Linked DNA regions of Homo sapiens: all the other regions are linked to region 3. The links come from fine-mapping of genetic effects on gene expression. A gene starts in region 3. Each other region holds a variant in brackets. All regions are shown on one strand. Distances are between the middles of the regions.

Evidence for each region.
Region 1: its variant is fine-mapped to the expression of NIPA1 in tibial nerve (GTEx, PIP 0.99).
Region 2: its variant is fine-mapped to the expression of NIPA1 in whole blood (TOPMed, PIP above 0.99).

What each region holds. Positions count from the first base shown.
Region 1 is chr15:22,806,017-22,811,016 of GRCh38, reverse strand. It overlaps NIPA1 (NIPA magnesium transporter 1), which reads right to left. Exons shown (of 5, transcript NM_144599.5): 2 at 221-268. Among named protein-coding and RNA genes, the nearest start is that of NIPA1, 22 kb to the right of the region's middle. The variant C/T (reference allele first, on the strand shown) is at 2,060.
Region 2 is chr15:22,815,592-22,820,591 of GRCh38, reverse strand. NIPA1 (NIPA magnesium transporter 1) reads right to left here. Exons shown (of 5, transcript NM_144599.5): 4 at 119-279. Among named protein-coding and RNA genes, the nearest start is that of NIPA2, 21 kb to the left of the region's middle. The variant G/A (reference allele first, on the strand shown) is at 2,931.
Region 3 is chr15:22,783,685-22,789,668 of GRCh38, reverse strand. NIPA1 (NIPA magnesium transporter 1) reads right to left here and starts at 3,025. Exons shown (of 5, transcript NM_144599.5): 1 at 2,835-3,025. The coding sequence starts at 3,012. RefSeq lists an enhancer at 1,978-2,087 and silencers at 2,438-2,567, 2,578-2,727, 2,798-3,157, 3,120-3,353.

The sequences.
Region 1 (5,000 bases), 22 kb before region 3:
CCTTCTGCACTCTCATCCTGGGAGGAAGGGGAGCAGGGAGAGTGCCCTGGGGAGGCAGGGACATCCGAACTGAAAGGCACGCTTAGGGCCTGGGGAGAGGCCACGCGACACCCTCTTCCAAAGAACAGAGCCACCCTAGCCCAGCCACTCCAGCCCTGCCCAGACCAGTGATGGATTCTAAGAAAGGAAAAGACCAGACTTCGCCACACAGGCTACTTACTTGCGATTGTGCCAGCCCACCACACAATGTCTGTTAAATAGGAAGTACCTATAAAAAATGAGATAAAAAATGTCAGAAAAGTGGGTTTACCAGCTACGTATATCAGGAAGAGGTTTACAAGCGAGAAACTTTTGACATGAAAACTAAAATTGAAAAGAATGAATGTCATACTGTTTATTCACCCTAAAGAGAATCTTTCATCTATAAATGGCAGCATTAGAGACCACCGAAAGTGGCAAAGTCAAGATATTTTTTGCAACCAACACAGGCTGACCCAAATAAGGAAATGAGATCTTTATACATCAGTTTTCTTTCACCCAACAAGCTACCACAAAGATATTCCTTTGATGGAGTTTTATTTTTATCTCAAAAGGGTTTGAGTCTTTAAAGTCCAACTCTCTCATGCATTTACTGTAGTCCATTTATATAAGAATTTTATTATCATAGGGTTTGACTTCCTGCTTAAACAAGTCACTCAATTTTCATTATTTATAACTCTTCTGATACGACTCTTCTTTCAGCCATGCGGGAACCACATCCTTACACTCACCTGATGCTCTGACATTTGACCTGAGACTTGCCGGCATCCTCTCAGGTTACCCCACCCATCCCACGCAGGGCAGGCGGAGCCCCAGCACCTTCCTCCCTCCCCCTGCCTCTTGACAGGTGTGTATGGTGAGAGGTCTCCCAACCTTTGAGACAGGTTTGTCCTTCAGATATGGCAAAATGCTCCTAAGCACTTTTTTTTTTGAGGCAGAGTTTCACTCTTGTTGCCCAGGCTGGAGTGCAATGGCGCGATGTCGGCTCACCGCAACCTCCGCCTCCTCCCAGGTTCAAGCGATTCTCCTGCCTCACCCTCCCTAGTAGCTGGGATTACAGGCATGTGCCACCATGCCCAGCTAATTTTGTATTTTTTTTTAGTAGAGACGAGGTTTCTCCACGTTGGTCAGGCTGATCTTGAACTCCCGATCTCAGGTGATCCGCCCACCTCGGCCTCCCAAAATGCTGGGATTACAGGTGTGAGCCACCGCGCCTGGCCTTTTTTTTTTTTTCAGACAGAGTCTCACTCTGTCACCCAGGCTGGAATGCACTGGTGCGATGTTGACTCACTGAAACCTCCACTTTCCGGGTTCAAACAATTCTCCCGTCTCAGCCTCCCGAGTAGCTGAGACTACAGGAGCATGCCACCACACCTGGCTAATTTTTGAATTTTTAGTAGAGACGGGGTTTCACCAAATTGGTCAGGCTGGTCTCGAACTCCTGACCTCAGGTGATCCGCCTGCCTCAGACTCCCAAACTGCTGGATTACAGGTGTGCAGCACGCCTGGCCTGCTAAGCATTTTTTGAGGAGATTTTTTGTTGTTAACCACAGATTACAGTAATGAATTCTTTTTTCCTTTTCCTTTTTTTGAGATGGAGTATCACTCTGTCGCTGAGGCTGGAGTGCAGTGGCACGATCTCAGCTGACTACAACCTCTGCCTCCTGGGTTCAAGCAATTCTCATGCTTCAGCCTCCCAAGTAGCTGGGATTACAGGCGTGCACCACCACGTGCGGCTAATTTTTGTATTTTTAGTAGAGAGGGGGTTTTGCTATATTGGCCAGGCTGGTCTTCAATTCCTGGCTCCAAGTGATCCACCCACCTCAGCCTCCCAAAGTGCTGTGATTACAGGAGTGAATCACCGTGCCCAGCCACAGTAACTAATTCTAATTGTTTTTATTCTCAGTAGGAAAACCACAATTTGGTATAAGACACATAGCCTGCTAGCCTGCTTAATGGAGCAGCAGAGCTACAAGTATTAGAAAAAGTACTTACAAAATGAAATGGGGGCTGGGCCCGG[C/T]GGCTCACACCTGTAATGCCAGCATTTTGGAAGCCTGAGGCAGGATGATCACTTGAGCCTAGGAGTTCAAGGTCAGCCTGGGCAACATAGCAAGACTCTATCTCTACAAAAAATTTAAAAATTAGCTGGGTGTGGTGGTGCATGCCTGTGGTCCCAGCTATTCAGGAGGCTGAGACAGAAGAATCGCTTGAGCCCAGGAGGATGAGGCTGCAGTTAGCCATGATCATGCCACTTCATTCCAGCCTGGGTGATAGAGTGAGACACTGTCTCAAAAAAAAGAATATTGCTATTTGATCACATCACAGTAAAAACTGATTTAGGCAAGAATCATTAACGGATACTAAAACAAGCGAATGAAAATTTACTGAGTCACCTCCATGGGTTTTTCTTATTAATTATGAACAGAAAAAGTTATCTTTATAGATAAGCCTGATGGACACTGGCTTAGCCAAGTGGTCAAAGTCCCCAGCATCAGTTGTGCCACCTGCCTGCTGTGGCTGTCTCCCAGCCCTGAGCCACGCCCTACCTCTGCTGCCAGGCTCCACTGGAGAAGACAGCCTGGCACCACTGGGGCTCCTGTCTGGTGTCCCTCTCAGTGTATCTAATACAAACAGGACCCAGGGTGTCCTATGAAGCAGAAAGTTTAGCGAAGCTTAAGAATGTCCCATGGTGGGCACTGTAGGAGAGTCAGCTATTAATACAGAATCAATGTTAGATTTCTAAATGTGCTAATCAAAGTGGCTATCCCAAAATGCATGCCGAATACTTGAGTGAAAGGTCATCAGGTCCAGAATACTAGTGTGAAAAGTCTGTGGACCAGTTTCCCAACAAAACCACCATAACTAATAAATAAAGTACTTAACAAAGTGGGCCGGGTGCAGTGGCTCATGCCTGTAATCCCAGCACTTTGCGAGGCCGAAGTTGGTGGATCACAAGGTCAGGAGACCGAGACCATCCCGGCTAACACAGTGAAACCCCGTCTCTACTAAAAAAAATACAAAAAAAAATTAGCTGGGCATGGTGGTGGGCGCCTGTAGTCCCAGCTATTTGGGAGGCTGAGGCAGGAAAATGGCATGAACCTGGGAGGCAGAGCTTGCAGTAAGCCGAGATTGTGCCACTGCACTCCAGCCTGGGCAACAGAGAGAGACTCCATCACACACACACACACACACACAAGTGAATTTAAACTCTGTGGAAATTATCCTAAGGGCATACAGAAAATATCTCCTTTTTCATTCCTGATTTTAGTAATTTGATTCTTCTTTTTTGCTTGGTCAGTCTAGCTAAAGGTTTGTCAATTTCATTGTTCTTTTCAAAGAACCAACTTTTGATTTTGTTTTTATTGGGTTTTTAGATTTTTTTTTTCTTTTTGAGACAGGGTCTCACTCTGTTGCCCAGGCTGGGGTGTAGTGGCATGGTCTCTCAGTTCACTGCAACCTCCATCTCCCAGGTTCAAGTGATTCTCCTGCCTCAGCCTCCCAAGTAGCTGGGATTACAGGCGTGGGCCACCACATCCAGCTGTCCTTTTATTGTAATGAACATGGTTTGGTCAGGACGTTTTGTGAAGTCATGGGATTCCTGCTACAGCAGCTGGACTGTGTGACCCTCCTACAGTGAAAGCTGGTCAAGGATGACAGTGACCAGTGCAATGAGGCCCATAGGCACCCCCCTTTCACTGCTATGGTTATCCCAACATTGATCATCACATAGTATATGTTTTTGGCAGTTTATAAAATGTCAAAAGTCACAAAATGAGGAGGAACCTGGAATACCAGGTACACAGGAATGGCAAAGTGAACAAAATGGTTTTTGTTCTTTTCCCAAAGGGTCCAGTTCAGTTCCAAGCATTTCAGGCCCTGCAACTTGTACTCTCCATCAAGAGCCTGGATTTGCACAAATCAAAAGGTGTATAGGTCACCCTCACCTTTTAAACCAGTATTAGGCAAAATTTTTCTGCATCCACAGACATTAAGCAAGTCAGGTTTTTCTCCATCCAGGTACCTGTCCCATACCCCTACCCATAAACAAAAGTGAAGCTCCTGCACATGGTCCCTGAGAGCCTCGGTCCAGGGGTGTCCCCTGTTCTGCCCTGCAGGAAGTGCATGGCTGTGTGCCCAGCTTCCTCACTGAGTTGGCTGCTCCATTTTCCCTCCTCCTTCTTTTGCCAGGAGCTCCTAGGAGTCTGCATTCCATATTAGCCCTTGGCCCGTCATACAGATATCTGTGAGGATATCTAAAACAACTGGGTTTCTTCACAGTTTCACCCTAAGCATTGCTGCCCCTAAGCACTGTTGTTCCGAAAGCTCATTAGCCAGCACTCTCAGTAGGTATCTATGCCCAAGCTTCTCCTCTTCCCAGTTGATGACGGTCCTCTATTAATCTGCAGGTCCTCCGGCCTCAGCAACAACAGGGAGCTGCAGCACTGAAGGATGCAGAGGATGCTGTTTGTCTTGCCACACTCACGTCTCCTCCCCCACTCCTAGGTGTGGGCTGCAGAGGATATGATCGCTAAGTTCCATTGGTTTTCCTCTCATTGGAAACCCTGGGTGCTGAGAGTTGCATAGCTGTTTATAACAGCTAAACTATAAAACAAAGAAGTGTTTGTGCAAACACAAAAGAGCCTTGCCAGGATGACAGTATCAACTGACAGTGATGCTGTCCAACCAGGGGCATGTGGCTTTAGACCTTCCATTTAGTTATAAATGTGTCGGAAATGTCCTTAAAATACAGCTTTAGGCCGGGCGCGGTGGCTCACGCCTGTAATCCCGGCACTTTGGGAGGCCGAGGCGGGCGGATCACAAGGTCAGGAGATCAAGACCATCCTGGCTAACACGGTGAAACCCCGTCTCTGCTAAAAATACAAAAAATTAGCTGGGCGTGGTGGCGGGCGCCTGTAGTCCCAGCTATTCGGGAGGCTGAGGCAGGAGAATGGTGTGAACCC
Region 2 (5,000 bases), 31 kb before region 3:
TCAGGGTGGACACACGGTTCCTCTGCCCTGCCAGGAAGCATCCAATTTGAAGACGTGGTTAAAAAAGTTGGCACTCCTACTGCAAACTTTCTTGGCAGTGCTGCTAGAAAGGAATTACCTGGATTGGTCAGCTTTTCCTCCAGCTCAGCCTGAGTTGTCACACTCTCAGACTTTGGGGAGTGGATAATCAGCACGACGGAGCCTGCACAGCTTAGCAGGCACCCCAACTTGCCCAAGATGTTGAGCTTTTCCTTCAGGAGATAGGAAGCTAAAATGGACCTTTATTGAAAAAAGAGAAATCATTAAAGTTTAAACCAAACTACCTGACCTTTCTTCTAACAGCAGATATTTTATCTAGAAAAACCATTTTCTTTTTCTTCTTTTTTTCCCTTTAAGAGACCACCTCCCACTCTGTTGCCCAGGCTGGAGTGCAGTGGTGCAATCACAGCTCACCACAAGCTTGAACTCCTGGGCTCAAGTGATCCTCCTACCTCAGCCACCGGAGTAGCTGGGACTACAGGTGCATGCCACCACACCCAGCTAATTTTTTAAAAATTTTGTGTAGAGACTGGGTCTCACTAGATTGCCCAGGCAAGTCTCAAACTCCTGGGCTCAAACGATCCTCTTGCCTTGGACTCCCAAAGTGCTGGAATTATAGGTGTGAGCCACCATGCCTGGCCAGGATTTTCACACCAATTCCATGTATAACCACTACGTAGTTAATGATACACATAATTTACACCACTATATTACTATGTCAGCACATATAAAATACACCAGAGTATAAAAAGTTTTATGACTGACCAAAAATAAAAGTAATGCTTCCTTTCTTATAAAAGGAACCAATCAAAAATACTAATATCTATGCTACATGGAAAAGTAGGGTACAAAAACTGTCAAAATAATTATAAGTAATGCATGATAAAAACAAAATAAATTAAGTGAAAAATGCACAAACAAAAGAAAAAATAAAAATGCTAATAGTAATTGCAGTAGTAGAAGTAGTATGGGGTGGCTATTTCCTCTAATACTGAAAACTTTTAAAAACTGGTCACATTATTAATGCAAAAAAATGTATTCTTCAAAAACATCTATAATCTCCAGGCTTCTAACTTGTTTCTTCTCTTATTTCCCTGTGTAATTATCAGTATACAATCTGAATTGGAACACCTTGCCCTCAGTAAGTCACAGGACTGGTCATTGTCACTTTACTCATGTCTGTGCTGAAGACGATCAGAAAACAGGAACGTCCGGGAGGAGGGCATACCAGGCTCAGGTATGGACCGGATTACTTCCTTTAATACCTATTTTAAAGATAAGGAAACTTGAGCCTCAGAAAGGGTCAGCATTGAACCTAAGGCCACAAAGCTAACAAGAGATACAAGCACGGTCATGACACACCCACAGGTCCTAAACGGCCTACTTTTCCCTTGTACCACTTCACATCCTTGTCCCTAGACAGCCTGTTCTTAAGAAGCTCCCAACAGTGTCATTGGGGAAATAAGCAACATCACTGAAAGAAACAACAAAAGACATGAATACACAACTAGATGTTAAATAGAGAAGCTCCACCGAGTAGCTGCCTGGAAAAGGAGAAACCAGAAATGCAGGGGGCTCACAGGGCAAAAAGTGGGCCTGGAACTGGCCTCGGACAACGGGTGGACTATGCCAAGATGGGAAAGGGTTGCCATGCACGAAAGTGGACAGTATGAGCCACGAGGCCAAATCATCTCTTATTCCATTGTGGAATACCAGAGGACAGTGCCATTTTCATTCATTCATTCATTCATTTATTGAGACAGAGTCTCACTCTGTGACCCAGGCTGGAGTGCAGTGGAGCAGTCTCGACTCACTGCAACCTCTGCCTCCCGGGTTCAAGCAATTCTCCTGCCTCAGCCTCCCGAGTAGCTGGGATTACAGATGCCCGCCACCATGCCCTGGGGGATTTTTGTATTTTTAGTAAGGACGGGGTTTCACCATGTTGGCCAGGCTGGTCTCAAACTCCTGACCTCAAGTGATTCACCCGCCTCGCCTCCCAAAGTGCTGGGATTATAGGCATGAGCCACTGCGCCTGGCTGACAGTGCCATTTTTAAATTGGGTTATCTGACTTTTTACTGATGCACTGTAAGAGTTTCTGTTTCGTTTTCTTTTGTTGAGACAGAGTTTCCCTCTTGGTGCCCAGGCTGGAGTGCAATGGCGCAATCTCGGCTCAATGGAACCTCCACCTCCTGAGGTCAAACAATTCTCCTGCCTCAGCCTCCCAAGTAGCTGGGATTACAGGCATGTGCCACCACACCAGGCTAATTTTTTGTATTTAGTAGAGACGGAGTTTTACCATGTTGGCCAGGCTGGTCTCGAACTCCTGATCTCATGATCCACCCGCCTCGGCCTCCCAAAGTGCTGGGATTACAGGCGTGAGCCACCACGACCGGCAAGAGTTTTTATGTGTTCTAACTACAAGTCCCTTATCAGATATATACTTTGAAATTTTTTCTCCCACGAGTTTTCAATTCATTGATGGCATCCTTTTAAGCAGAAAGGTTTTTAATTTTGATGACATCGAATTTATCTATTTTCCTTCTGTTGTTTGTGCCCTTCGTGATCCACCTGCCTGGGCCTCCCAAAGTGTGGGAATTGAAGGCATAAGCCACTGTGCCTGGCCAGTTAAATTTATTCTTAAGTATTTCATCATTTTGGTGCTACTGCATATGAAATTGCTTTCTTAATTTCATTTTTGGTTTGCTCACTGCTACTGTATATAGATGCAATTTTTTTTTTTTTTCTTTGAGACACAGTCTCGCTCTGTCACTCAGGCTGAAGTGCAGTGGCACGATCTCAGCTCACTGCAAGCTCCGCCTCCCGGGTTCACGCCATTCTCCTGCCTCAGCCTCCCGAGTAGCTGGGACTACAGGTGCCTGCCACTACGCCC[G/A]GCTAATTTTTTGTATTTCTTTTAGTAGAGATGGGGTTTCACCGTGTTAGCCAGGATGGTCTTGATCTCCTGACCTCGTGATCCACCCACCTCAGCCTCCCAAAGTGCTGGGATTACAGGCATCAGCCACTGTGCCCAGCCGTAATTTTTTTTTTTTTTTTTGAGACGGAGTTTCGCTTTTGTTGCCCAGGCTGGAGTGCAATGGCCCGATCTCGGCTCACTGCAACCTCTGCCTACTGGGTTCAAGCGATTCTCCTGCCTCAGCCTCCCGAGTGGCTGGGATTACAGGCATGCGCCACCATGCTTGGCTAATTTTGTATTTTTATGAGAGACGGGGTTTCACCACGTTGGTCAGGCTGATCTCGAACTCCTTACCTCAGGTGATCCACCCACCTCAGCCTCCCAAAGTGCTGGGATTACAGGCCTGAGCCACTGCGCCTGGCAGATGTAATTTTTTTTTTTTTTTTTTTTTTTTGAGACAGAGTCTCACTCTGTTGCCTGGGCTGGAGTGCAGTGGCACAATCTCGGCTCACTGTAACCTCTACCTCCTGGGTTTAAGCAATTCTCCTGCCTCAGCCTCCTGAGTAGCTGGGACTACAGGCATGTGCCACCACACCTGGCTGATTTTTTTTTGTATTTTTGTAGAGATGGGGTTTCACCATGTTGGCCAGGCTGGTCTCTAACTCCTGACCTCAGGTGATCTTCCCGTCTCAGCCTCCCAGAGTGCTGGGATTACAGGAGTGAGCCACTACGCCCGGCCTCAGATGTAATTTTTATATAGTGATCTTGTGTCCATCGACCTTGCTAAACTTATTAGTTCTAATAATTTCTTAGTGATTCTTTAGGACTCTCTATATAAGATCAGGTCCTCTGCTGGGTGTGGTGGCTCATGCCTGTAATCCCAGCACTTTGGGAGGCCAAAGTGGGTGGATCACCTAAAGTCAGGAGTTCAAGACTAGCCTAGCCAACATGGCAAAACCCCATCTCTACTAAAAATACAAAAATTAGCTGGGCGTGGTGGTGGGCACCTGTAATCCAAGCTCCTCGGAGGCTGAGGCAGGAGAATCACTTGAACCCAGGAGGCCGAGGTTGCAGTGAGCCGACAGCACACCACTGCACTCCAGCCTGGGTGACAGAGTGAGACTCCATCTGAAAAAAAAAAAAAAAAAAAAAAAGGCTGGGTGCGGTGGCTCACACCTGTAATCCCAGCACTTTGGGAGGCCGAGGCAGGCAGACCACAAGGTCAGGAAATCAAGACCATCCTGGCTAACATGGTGAAACCCCGTCTCTACTAAAAATACAAAAATTAGCTGGGCATGGTGGTACGCGCCTGTAGTCCCAGCTACTCGGGAGGCTGAGGAAGGAGAATCACTTGAACCCGGGAGGTGGAGGTTGCAGTGAGCCAAGATCACACAACTGAACTCTAGCCTGGTGACAGAGTGAGACTCTGTCTCAAAAAAAAAAAAAAAAAAAAAAAAAAAAATCAGGTCTTCTGCCAATAAAGGCAATTAAATTCTTCCTTTCCTTTCCAATATGGATGCCTTTTAATTTGTTTGCTTACCTAATTGCTGTGGCTATAACATCCAGTACAATGATGAATAGATGAGGTGAAAGTAGGCAGCTTATTTTCTTCCTGATCTTAAGGGGAAAACATCAACCCTTGTGCCATTAAGTATGATGTTAGCTGGGGTACTTTGACAGAGGCCCTTTGTCAGTTTAGGAAGTTATTTTCTATGCCTAGCATATTGAGAGTTTTCGTCATGAAAGAGTATTGAATTGTACCACATAATTTTTGTGTGTCTTTTGAGATGATCACATGGTGATTATTCTATTGCTGTGGTATATTACACTAATTTATTTTCAATGCTAAATCTACTTTGCATTTCTGGGATAAATCCCACTTGTATAATCCTTTTTATATATTGCTGGATCCAACTGGTTAGTATTTTGTTCAAAATTTCTCCATCTATATTCATAAGAGAATTAGTTCATAGTTGTTTTTTTAATGAGCTTTATCTTTTCTTTGTTTTTTTGGGGGGCGGGGGAGGGACAGAGTTTTGCTCTGTCACC
Region 3 (5,984 bases):
TGCCACATGACTCGGAAATGTTCCCTAGTGTAAGACACCTCCATGCCTCCCTCGCCTTCTTCGGCGGGAGGTGCTCAACCCCCATACAAGTTTTCTTCTCCTTTTCTCTCCTACTTACTAACCAAATCCCAAAACAATTCCTCTCAGCCGTAAGTGACTCTGCCCCGCCGGCTGGTCTCTCAGCTCACCTTGATGGGTGGCTCACAGGGATGGAAAGGACCTTGGGTCCAGACCGGGAAGAACTGAGGTGCTAATGGCCTCCTGGACGGGAGGCTCTGAAGAGTCATAGAGCTAAAGCCTAACACCATGCAATGTCTGGGGCTTAAAATAAATAATGAAAATCACAAGTTCACTTTGATCAATTTAAAACCATAATATAGGCCGAGTGTTGGTGGCTCACGCCTGTAATCCCAGCATTTTGGGAGACTGAGGTGGGCAGATCACCTGAGGTCTGGAGTTCGGGACCATCCTGGCCAACATGATGAAACCCCATCTCCAGTAAAAGCACAAAATTAGCCAGATATGGTGGCACGCGCCTGTAATCCCAGCTCGGGAGGCTGTGGCAGGCGAATCGCTTGAACCCGGGAGGCAGAGGTTCAGTGAGCCAAGATCGCGCCATTGCACTCCAGCCTGGGCAACAAGAGCGAAACTCCGTCTCAAAAAAAAATCATAATAAAAAATAAATAAATGAATGAAAGCATAGTATATAGGTATAAGAAACAGCATTTATCTTTTTTTTTTTTTTTTTTAAGACAGAGCCTTGTTCTTCTCGCTCGGGCTGGAGTGCAATGGCACAATTTTGGCTCACTGCAACCTCCCCCTCCTGGGTTCAAGCAATTCTCCTGCCTCAGCCTCCCGAGTAGCTGGGATTACAGGTGTGAGCCACTGCACCCAGCTTATCATGTTTTTTTTAAAAGGCTACTCGCTTGTTTATTTTCCTATTCACCAATTCCTTTGAGCCACATGACCTGGGTTGAAATAACACAGTTTTCCTCAACTTTTTAGAAAACTAACTAAAGCTGGTATTCAGCTTTCCTTCGTTTTTCCCTAATGTCTTACATCTGGTGTTCACGTGTTCTTAGGCTCCTCCTGGTTGTGACGTGCTTTCAGATTCCATGACCTTCACAGAGGACTGGTCAGGTGTACTGCAAGATTTTTTTTTTTTTTTTTGAGATGGAGTCTTGCTCTGCCGCCCAGGCTGAGTGCAGTGGCGGATCCCGGCTCACTGCAACCTCTGTCTCCCGGGTTCAAGAGACTCTCCTGCCTCAGCCTCTCGAGTAGCTGGTACTACAGGTGCGTGCCACCACACCGGGATAATTTTTTGTATTTTTAGTAGAGATGGGGTTTCGTCGTGTTAGCCAGGATGGTCTAGATCTCCTGACCTTGTGACCCGCCCGCCTCGGCCTCCCAAAGTGCTGGGACTACAGGCACCAGCCACCGCGCCCGGCCGCAAGATGTTCTTCTACTCCGGTTTGTGTGGTGTTTTCCTCATGCTTACGCTAGGGCCGTGGATTGGGGAGGTGAGGTGCTTTCTCAGGCCATCCTATTTATAAGGTCACGCGCGTTGACCATCTCACCCAGTCCTGGGGCCTGTCACACGGACAGATGCTCCCTGAAGTGTGGCTGCGGTGTGTGTGTATCTGTGTGCCTTAGAGACAGACACATCTGCATCCTTGGAAAATCATACTTGGTTTTATTTAATTCTATTTAAATTGTATGGGAGACCACTATGCTTTCACTTTAAAGCTAAATTCCTTAAATTATCCATGATTTTATATTTTCATTCGAGACTGTCGGGCCCTTTATCTCTTCTCTGAAGCCAACGCCTGGCTCACTCAGAGAAAGTTTCACCTGCATTCCGCCATGTAAATTACGAGTTCACTTTCTCTCACAACCCAAGAGTCGGGGGCCACATCCTTCCCAGAGAGCTCTTAATATTCTTCTTCTAAGAGTATGGCCAAGAACCACAAGACTTTCTCAGTCCCTCTGGAAGCAATGGAAACGGACTGTTTCACAGCCTGCCATATCCTGCATTGGCAAACCGGTCCCGTCCGGGGCCTCCCAGCACAAACGACACTGACAGAGAGCTCTACCCCGCAGAGCACTACGGAGTGCGGTGCTGCGGCACATCCACCTGGGAAGTGGCCTTGGCCCGTCCAGGGCTTGGTTTTGGATCTGCCGCGCGTGTTCTCCAAACTGAAGATCACTTGTATTCATTTGGTGCAGGTCTAAGGCGCAGCGGGCTCCGTAAGAGCACCCCAGGAACGCACAGCCCTGAGAGCCCGCCCGGGTCTTCCTTTTGCACCAGCGAGGCCCCTGCGGGGGACTGGAAATCCCAGGTCTTGCTCTACCGAGCGTACCCTAGGAGCGGGCCGCGCATCGGCTGAAGCGGCGCTTCCAGGCGGGCGCTGGGCTCGAGCACCCCAGCACCGCGTCCGCAGGAGGCTCCCGGCCGCGGGTTGCGGGCCACGGCGAGGGCTGCCGGGCGGCGCGGGGCAGGTCTTGGACCGAGGGAAAAAGTCAGCCGGGGAAGCCCGCACACCAAAGCAAGCCGCTCCAGCCGCTGAGAACGGAGAAAAGCCGTGGCGTCGGCGAAGCGCCGGACGCTCAGGACGCACCTGTGATTCCTGGGCCGCTCCCGGGCCCGAGCGCCAGGACGCGGCGGCAGCCTGGGCACGCCGCGGGGAGCACCCGCCCGCGCAGCCTTCCCCCAACCTGGGCCCGGGCCCCGACCCCGTCCCCTGCCCCGACCCGGGCGCCCCCACCTGCGACCGCCTTCTCCGCCGCCCGCCTCCCCCACCCGCCCGCCGCCTGCCGCCTGCCGCCCGCCCTACCTCGCCGCTTGGCACGCACGATGCCCTTCTTCTGTAGCACGAACGTGGACCCGTTCACCAGGCTCGACACGACGGCCACGCCCAGGCCGAGCGACACGGCGGCGGGGCTCGGGCTACGCGCCCCCTCCCCGGCCGCCGCCGCCGCCGCCGCCGCCGCTGCCGCAGCTGCAGTCCCCATTCCGCCCGCGCCCGCCCTCCGAGCCTGCGCCTGCGCGCCGCGCCCCGCGGGGCGGGATGGGGGGTGACCGGGAGGCGCGGGCGGGGGAGGGGAGGGGGACGGGTGGGGGAGGAGCAGGAAGAGGGGCGGGGGCGGGACGGGGGTGCCAGGGACCGGCGCCTTAGGCTGCGGGGACAGCAGTGGCGCCGGACGCGGCGGCAGTGAGGGGCCGGTGAGGCGCTGGGTGGGGCGGGGGTTCCCGGATTTCGCAAATGGAAATGCAGGACTCCTGGTTAAGTTTCCAGCGCGGAGAAACACGCATACTTTCTGAGTGGTGTCCTCTGCAATATCCGGGCAGCGGAGCGCGGCAGGACGCACCGGCGGGCAGCGGTCCCCGAAGAGCCTCCAGCGGAGGCCGGCCCAACTCACCGGAGCGCGAAGCCCGGCGCGCCGCTGCAGAGATCGAAGGAGAGCCCTGGCGCTGGGCGTTTCTCTTCCGCCCTTGGCGCTAGAGTCAGCTACATGGGGCTCTGGGCTTGTGATCCCATAGTCTAGTTTCCTCGTTTTAATAAACTACAACAAGCCGGGCGCGGTGGCTCACGCCTGTAATCCCAGCACTTCGGGAGGCCGAGGCGGGTGGATCACAAGGTCAGGAGATCGAGACCATCCTGGCTAACACAGTGAAACCCCGTCTCTACTAAAAATACAAAAAATTAGCTGGGCGTCGTGGCGGAGGCCTGTAGTCCCAGCTACTCGGGAGGCTGAGCCAGGAGAAGGGTGTGAACCCGGGAGGCAGAGCTTGCAGTGAGCGGAGATCACACAACTGCACTCGAGCCTGGGCGACAGAGCGAGACTCCGTCTCAAAAAAAAAAAAAAAAAGAAACAACAACAAAATTACAAGCTTGAAAAATAGGAAAAAGTTATTTTATTTTTTTTGGAAAAAAATATTTTTTAAAGTGACTCAATTCCACAACCCTCACCTAATTATTAGTATTTTAGGTGTTTTCCCATAATGTATACATACTTTTACATGTTTCCAATTACAATATACGAAATTTCCTTTTTATTTAATATATATCAGTTTCTGTATCGGTACATAAATATGATTATTCTAATGACAGTATAATAATTTGTCTAACCATTCAGCCATTGTTGGGTGTTAGGTAGCTACCAGGTTGGTTTGTTTTTTTGAGACAGAGTCTCGCTCTGTCGCCCAGGCTGGAGTGCAATGGCGCGATCTCGGCTCACTGCAACCTTCCGCCTCCCGGATTCAAGCGATTCTCGGCCTCAGCCTCCGAGTATCTAGAATTACAGGCGTCCGCCACCACGCCCGGGTTAATTTTTGTATTTTGAGTAGAGACGCGGTTTCACCATCTTGGCAAGGCTGGTCTTGAACTCCTGACCTCAGGTGATCCGTCCGCTCTACCTCCCAAAGTGCTGGGATTACAGGCGTGAACCACCGCGCCTGGCCGGTTGCTGCCAGGTTTTGTTGTCTATAAACGATGCTACAAGCTGGGCACAGTGGCTCACACCTATAATCCCAGCACTTTGGGGACCGAGGTGGGAGGCTCGCTTGAGCTCAGACGTTCAAGACCAGCCTGGGCAACGTAGCGAGACCCGTCTCTACCAAAAAAAGAAAAAAATTAATTAGCGGGGCGTGGTGGCTTTTACCTCCAACCCCAGATACTCTGGAGGCAGAGGTGGGAGGATGGCTTGAGGTGGAGGTTGCAGTGAGCTGTTATTGCACCACTGCACTCCAGCCTGGGCAACAGAGCAAGATTGTCTCAAAAACAAACGAAAAGTATAAACCTTTTGGCAGCTTTGCATACAGCATTATTATTTTGTGAAGAAATATAAAATAGGGCCGGGGAGGTGGCTCATGACTGTAATCCCAGCACTTTGGGAGGCGGAGGCGGACGGATCCGGAGGTCAGGTGGATGGATCAGGAGGTCAAGAGATCGAGACCATCCTAGCTAACACGATGAAACCCGGTCTCTACTAAAAATACAAAAAATTAGCCGGGCATGGTGGAGGGCGCCTGTAGTCCCAGCTACTCAGGAGGCTGAGGCAGGAGAATGGCGTGAACCCGGGAGGCGGAGCTTGCAGTGAGCCGAGATGGCACCACTGCACTCCAGCCTGGGCGACGGAGTGAGACTCCGTCTCAAAAAAAAAAAGAAAAAAAAAAGAACTCCACCCCAGACATTTTTCCATGTGAGTACATAGGTTAAATGACAGGCATATTTTATCTGATGGGGAAACACATATGGGATTTTAATTAAAAACATAAAACTATATTTTGCTTGAATTTAACAAAAGAAAAACTGAAATGAAACTACAGTAACTACTGAATGACAAACATTATTTTGCCATGAGATATTACTTCCTAAAAGATACACCTAAAATTAAAGTTAGTAGGCCAGGTACAGTGGCTCATGCCTATAATCCCAGTACTTTGGGAGGCCAAGGCCAGCAGATCACTTGAGCCCAGGAGTTTGAGATCAGCCTGGGCAACATGATGAAACCCCATCTCTGCAAAAAAATACAAAAATTAGCCAGGCATGGTGACATGTGCTTGTAGTCCCAGCTACTCAGGAGGCTATGGGAGGATCACTTGACCCCAGAAGTTGAGGCTACAGTGAGCCATGATCACGCCACTGCACTCCAGCCTGGGCAACAGAAGTGAGACCCTGTCTCAAAAAAAAAAAAAAAAAAGTGAGAAACACTAAGAGGGTGGGAGTTACGTTTATTTTAACTCTGGGTTTCAATTTTGGGCTATCAATTGATTCCTTGCAAGGAGAAATGAGGAAATCAGTTCACTTTTCAGCTCCCTAAAAAATTTTTTTTTCGTCTTATGTTTTGAGATGGAGTCTTGCTCTGTCACCCAGGCTGGAGTGCAGTGGCGTGATCTTGGCTCACTGCAACCTACGCTTCATGGGTTCAACCAATTCTCTGCTTCAGCCTCCCAAGTAGCTGGGATTACAGACGCCTGCCAC